Homo sapiens: one gene and its partner. The protein of the gene in region 1 purifies or fractionates together with the protein of each later gene. This does not show direct contact. Each region holds a gene or a part of one and is shown on either strand. Other genes may lie near its edges.

The links.
Region 2: the proteins of SPA17 (region 1) and USP33 purify together in Homo sapiens (affinity purification with mass spectrometry; 2 studies listed by BioGRID and IntAct, with this or other methods). This does not show direct contact.

The regions. Positions count from the first base shown.
Region 1 is NC_000011.10:124,680,174-124,684,273, reverse strand, and holds part of SPA17 (sperm surface protein Sp17), read right to left. Parts: intron 2,886-4,100; coding exon 2,815-2,885; intron 1-2,814. UniProt on the Homo sapiens protein: Sperm surface zona pellucida binding protein. Helps to bind spermatozoa to the zona pellucida with high affinity. Might function in binding zona pellucida and carbohydrates.
Region 2 is NC_000001.11:77,698,170-77,700,957, forward strand, and holds part of USP33 (ubiquitin carboxyl-terminal hydrolase 33), read right to left. Parts: intron 1-2,788. UniProt on the Homo sapiens protein: Deubiquitinating enzyme involved in various processes such as centrosome duplication, cellular migration and beta-2 adrenergic receptor/ADRB2 recycling.

The DNA.
Region 1 (4,100 bases):
AAAAAAATTACTGTATTAGTTTGTTCTTACACTGCTATGAAGAAATACCTGAGACTGGGTAATTTATTAAGAAAAGAGGTTTAATTGATTCACAGTTCTGCATGGCTGAGGAGGCCTCAGAAAACTTACAATCATGGTGGAAGGCATCTCTTCACAGGGTGGCAGGAGAGAGAATGAGAGCTGAGCAAAGGGGAAAAAGCCCCTTATTAAACCATCATCCCCCATGATTCAATTACCTCCCACTGCATCCCTCCCACAACATGTGGGGATTATGGGAACTACAATTCAAGATGAGATTTGGGTGGGGACACAGCCAAATGATATCAGTTACTTTGTTGATTTTCTGTTTAGATAATTTGTCTAATGCTATGAGTGGGGTGTTGAAGCCCCTCACTATTATTGTATTGCAGTCTACCTCTGTCTTTAGACATAGAAATTTTTTTTAATGAATCTGGTTGCTCCAGTGCTGGGTGTGTATATATTTACAATTGTTATATCCTCTTACTGAATTGATCCCTTTATCATTATAAAATAAACTTGTTTGTTGTTGTTTTCTACTGTTTTTAACTTAAAGTCTGTTTTACCTAATGTAACTATAGCTACTTCTGCTTGCTTTTGGTTTCTGTTGGCATGGAATATCTTTTTCCACTTCTTTACTTTCAGTCTAAATGCTTTTACAGGTAAGGTGAGTTTCCTATTAGCAGCATATAGTTGAATCATGTTTTTTTTTTTTTTTTAAAGAAATCCATTCAGCCAGTCTATAGCTTTTATGTTGAGCATTTAATCCATATATGTTTAAAGTTATTATTGATATGTGGAGTTTTGTTCCTTTTGTCTTATTGTTAATTGCTTTCTGGTTATTTTATACATTGTTTCTTTTTCTCTTACTGTTTGTCATTGTGGACTGGTGGAATTCTGTAGTGGGCCCATTTGATTCATTTCTGTTCCTCCTTTGTGTGGTCGCTTTAACAGTGAGTTTTATACTTTCCTGTGTTTTCATGATGCTAACTTCCATTTTTTTGCTTCCAAGTTTAGGATTTCCTTGAACACTTCTTGTAGGGCCAGCCTAGTACAGACGAATGCCCTTGGCATTTGCTTGTTTGGGAAATACTTTATTTCTCTTTCATTTATGAAGGTTAATTTTGCTGGATATAGAATTCCTGGCTGATAGTTGTTTTCTTCCAGCTCTTTGAATTATCATCCCACTCTCTCCTGGCCTGTCAGGTTTCTGCTGAGAAGTACGGTTATTAGTCTGATCGGGTTTCCCTCACAGTTGATGAGATGTTCTCATCTTGCTGTTTTTAGAATTCACTCTTTGACTTTAGACAGTTTGATTTTAATGTGCTGTGGTGAAAACTTTTTTTTTTTTTTTGCATTGTATTTGGGGAATCACTGCACCGCCTATATCTGGATGTTTAAATCTCTTGCTAGACTTGTGATGTCTTCATCTATTATTGCATTAAATAGGTTTTCTAAGCCTTCTGATCTTTTTGTCCTTGCGGATACCAATAATTCAAATATTCAGCTGCTTTATGTTGTCCCAAATGTCTTAAAGGCTTTGTTTATTCTTTTTTATTTTTGTCTTACTGGATTGTTTCAGACCTGTATTCAAGTTCTAAAATTTTTTTGTTCCACTTAGTCTAGTCTATTGTTAAATCTTTTGAATGTATTTTATATTTCCTTCAATAAATTCTTCAATTCCAGAATTTATGTTAGGGTTTTTTTAAAAATAAAAATCTATCACCTTGTAAAATTTTTCATTTATATCCTGAATTGTTTCACTGAGTTCTTTGTATTGGTTTTCAGATTTCTCTTGCACCTCACTGACCATATTTAAAAATCAGTATTTTGAGTTCCTTATCTGAGACTTTAAGAATTTCATTCTGGTTATGATCTATTAGTGGAGAACTGTTGTGTTCATTCTGGGGTGTCATACTTCCTTGTTTTTCATGTTTCCTGTGAGACTCTGAATTTCTATCAAGTTTCCAGTTGATGCCAATAATGCTGATTCCACACAGCCTTTCTCAACCAGCATTCATTATCTGAACCATGGAACACAGAGAATGTTTTGAGAAGCTCTTTTCTCAATTCTCCCAAGGATGGTACCTAACCAGAACCATTCTAGATACAAATCAGGACACTGATTCCTTACATGCAATTAGTGCCTTTGGTTTAGGGCTTAATTTTTTTGAGGAAACTTGGTTGAGAAAGCTGTCTTTGTAAAGCTGCTAAAGAGAAAGGCTCAGACTCTGAAAAAGCTAGCTTTATAGAGAAAACTACACCATTACCACCTTTAATTCTAACCGGTCTTTTGTATCAATAATATCATATCGATGATAATGAAATAATTGGACTAATAGTGTTTTGGTCTACGAAATATCATCTATTAATTCAGTAATTATTTGTGGAGTACCTGCTATTGCTTAGCACTGTGATGCTGAAAACATTTGAAGAATAAATGATGAAATAATTATTCATAACTTTTAAGCACCTTCTTCCTGTTGTTCATCATTAAACTTAAGTGAAATATCTGTACATGACTCAGATACTTTAGAAAAATATTCTCAGCAAAAAATCCCAGCACAATTTTAATTTAATAAGTTTTAATAAGATTTAATAAGTTTTTATTAAATCTTTTTAATAAATAATCTTTTTAATAAAATAAGATTTATTAAATTTTAATTTAATAAGATTTAATAAGTTATTTGTGATGCCTCCTCACATAATTCTCACAATTCTGGGGATAGCCTAATAATTGCTAGCTGTAGACAGAGAGAAGAAATAGCCAAATCCAACAGCTTCAAAGGACCATACCTCGAATGCATGATTGTTATAGAAGCGGTCTTCTACCTTACTCCCCCATTCTGCTGGATCAAAGTTGGTTTCTAAATAATAAAAATATAAGAACTTCAGATTTATTTGAATTCATTAAGGTAAATGTAGAATAGTGACACAAATGTAAGTTTCTTGTTTCAAATTACAGGTTCTTTACTGGCAGTCCAAAATCTTATTGACATTGTGCATAGCGTAGCACTGCAGACATTACCAGTGATTATTAAACATATGATAACCAACTGAACATTGGATGAGCCTTTGGGGATATTTAGAAAAGCACTAAAAACGTAATTTCTGCCTTCATAAAATTTATAATAAAATGGGAAAAAGAACAAATGCCAGTACTTAAATATAAATGTAGACACTTAGAACATGTATTAGTAAACACAGAAAAATGTATAAACCTAAATGCTAAGTTGTCAGAAAGTCTGGAAAAGTGAAAGATGGGAGAAATTTTTTTTAATGAAGTATATTATGTAGACAGTTGACACAGACAAGCAGAGGTATTTATTTTTAAACAATTTTTTTCTTTAACTTTATATTATAAAAATTTCAATACTTAAAAAGTAGATATGATAACAAACTCCCATGAGCATACTGTCTAGATTCAATGATCAACCCATGATTTATTTTATTTATAACCTTTTCTTCTGATTATTTTTCTGCACTTTTTTCTGATTATTTTTAACCCAACCCCTTGCATCCTGTTATTTTATCTACAATTATTTATTTCAGAATGTATCTCAATATATACTCTTTTAAAATATAACCACACCACCATTATCATACTTCAAAATACTAAAAATATTAATAATTCCTCAATATCCTCAACTATTCAGTCAACTATCCAAATTTCTTCCATTGTCTATTTATTTGTTGGTTCAAATCAGGACCCCGAAAACGGGCACACACAGCTCTTTGTATGTCTTTTAAATTTCTTTTAAAGGAAGAGCCCCCAGCCCCTATTCTTTCCTTGCAATTTATCTGTTGATGAAATTACGTCATTTTCCCTTTGGAGTTTTTCACAGTTCAGATGTTTCTGACTATCCCCATGGTGGCTTTTAACAAGTTCTTCAGCCTTTGAATTTCCTGTAAACTGGTAGCTAGCTGTATAGGTTTGATCTAATTCGGGTTTGACGGTTTGATTTTTTTTCTGCAAGTATACTTGATTGGTAGTGCTGTGTAATTCTGTCATAAAATTTATAATATCTGGTTACTCTTTTTATAATTTTTATCGGCCCCCTGATGATCCTTGCTTAGATCAT
Region 2 (2,788 bases), on another chromosome or scaffold:
TCTCCTGCCTCAGCCTCCTGAGTAGCTGGGAATACAGGCACACACCACCACGCCCGGCTAATTTTTGCTTTTTTTTTTTTTTTTAGTAGAGATGGGAGTTTCACCATGTTGGTCAGGCTGGTCTCGAACTCCTGACCTCACGATCTACCCACCTCAGCCTCCCAAAGTGCTGGGATTACAGGCGTGAGCCACTACACCTGGCCTATGGTTAATTCTTAATGTCTTCTCCTGAGCTTCTTCGTTTTTAGTTCTTAGTTCCCCCAAAACAGAACCAGGAAAGAAGGTAAGAGAGGCTCGTTCACAACCATCACAGTTTAACAGAAATGTTTTGTTTTTTTTTTTTTTTTTGAGACGGAGTCTCGCTCTGTTGCCAAGGGCTGGAGTGCAGTGGCATCATCTCGGCTCACTGCAAGCTCCGCCTCCCAGGTTCATGCCATTCTCCTGCCTCAGCCTCCCGAGTAGCTGGGACTACAGGCACCCACCACCACGCCCAGCTAATTTTTTGTATTTTTAGTAGAGATGGGGTTTCACCGTGTTAGCCAGGATGGTCTTGATCTCCTGACCTCGTGATCCACCCCCCTCGGCCTCCCAAAGTGCTGGGATGACAGGCATGAGCCACCACGCCCGGCCCAGAAATTATTTTTTAACTCTCCATTTGGGGATTACAAGTCAAAATGTACCACTAATGCTATAAAATAGCAATTCCTTTGTAATTTGAAAGAAATTATACAATTAATTTGCTTCAGATTATCAAAGTAACATTAAGAACAATAAAAGCATTATAAAAGAAACCGTTTAAATACATTCTTTTTAAAATTTAAGGCAAAAGTGAACCGCATGGTCATCATCAAAAGTTGTAAAAGCAACTTAAACAAATTTACAATTAAAAAAACCCAATTAGAAAGTGGACAAAGAACATGAACACTTCTCAAAAGAAGACATTTATGTGGCCAAAAAAACATGAAAAAAAGATCAACATCACTGATCATTAGAGAAACACAAATCAAAACCACAATGAGATACCATGTCACATCAGTCAGAATGCCAGTTATTAAAAAGTCAAGAAACAGGCTGGGCCCAGTGGCTTATGCCTGTAATCCCACCACTTTGGGAGGCCGAGGCAGGTGGCTCACTTGAGATCAGGAGTTTGAGACCAACCTGGCTAACATGGTGAAACCCCATCTCTACTAAAAATAGAAAAATTAGCCAGGCATGACAGCGGCACCTGTAATCCCAGCTACTCAGGACGCTGAGGCAGGACAATCGTCTGAACCCAGGAGGAGGTTGCAATGAGCTGAGATCACGCCACTCCACTCCAGCCTGAGTGACAAAGTGAGCCTCTTTTTCAAAAAAAAGAGAGAGTCAAGAAACAAGAGATGCTGGCGAGGCTGTGGAGAAATGGGAACACTTTTACACTGTTGGTGGGAATGTAAATTAGTTCAACCATTGTGGAAGACAGTGTGGCAATTCCTCAAAGACCTAGAACCAGAAATACCATTTGACCCAGCAATCCCATTACTGGGTATATATCCAAAAGAACACAATTCATTCTATTATAAAGATACATGCACACATATGTTCATGGCAGCACTATTCACAATAGCAAAGATAAGGAATCAACCCAAATGCCCATCTATGATAGACTGGATAAAGAAAATGTGGTAAATATACACTATGGAATACTACGCAGCCATAAAAAGGAAAGAGATCATGTCCTATGCAGGGACATGGATGGAGCTGGAAGCCATTATCCTCAGCAAACTAATGCAAGAACAGAAAACCAAACACTGCATGTTCTCACTTATAAGTGGGGGCTGAACAACAAGAACACAAGGACACAGGGAGGAGAACACACACTAGGGCCTGTTGGTGGGGGTTGAGGGATGAGGGGTGGGAGAACAACAGGAAAAACAGCTAATGCATGCTGGGCTTGATACCTAGGTAATGGGTTGATAGGTGGAGCAAATCGCCATGGCACATGTTTACCTATGTAACAAACCTGCACATCCTGCACATGTATGCTGGAACTTACAAAATAAAAATAAATTTTTTTAAAGGTGTAGAAAAGCCAGATATGGTGGTGTGCACCTATAGTCCCAGCTACTCAGGAGGCTGAAGCAAGAGGATCGCTGGAGCCCAGGAGTTTGAGGCCAGCCTGGACAATACAGAGAGAACTCAGTAATTCAGCACTTTGGGAGGCCAAGGTTGGTGCACTGCTTGAGCCCAGGAGTTCCTGGGCAACACTGTGAGACCATGTCTCTACAAATAATTGTAAAAAATAATTTTTAAATTAGCCAAGTGTGGTAGTACATGCCTGTAGTCCCAACTACTCAGGAGATGGAGGTAGGAGGATCGCATGGGCTGAGAGTTCAGGGCTGCAGTGAGCCATAATCATGCTGCTGTACTTAAACCTGGGCAACAGGGTTAAGACCTTGTCTCTATTAATTTAAAATTTTAAAAAGTAAATACATAAATACAAAAAGCTTTAACTAGGCATATTGTTGCAGCCTTTTTCACATATCAGAATCTTTTTTTTTTTTTTTTTTTTAAAGACAAAGTCTTGCTCTGTCACCCAGGCTGGAGTACAGTGGCATGATCTCAGTTCACTGCAGCCTCCGCCTCGTGGATTCAAGCAATTCTCCTGCCTCAGCCTCCTGAGTAGCTGGGATTACAGGTGACTGCCACCACACCCAGCTAATTTTTGTATTTTTAGTAGAGACAGGGTTTCACTATGTTTCAGGCTGGTCTTGAACTCCTGACGTCAGGTGATCCACCCACGTCAGCCTCC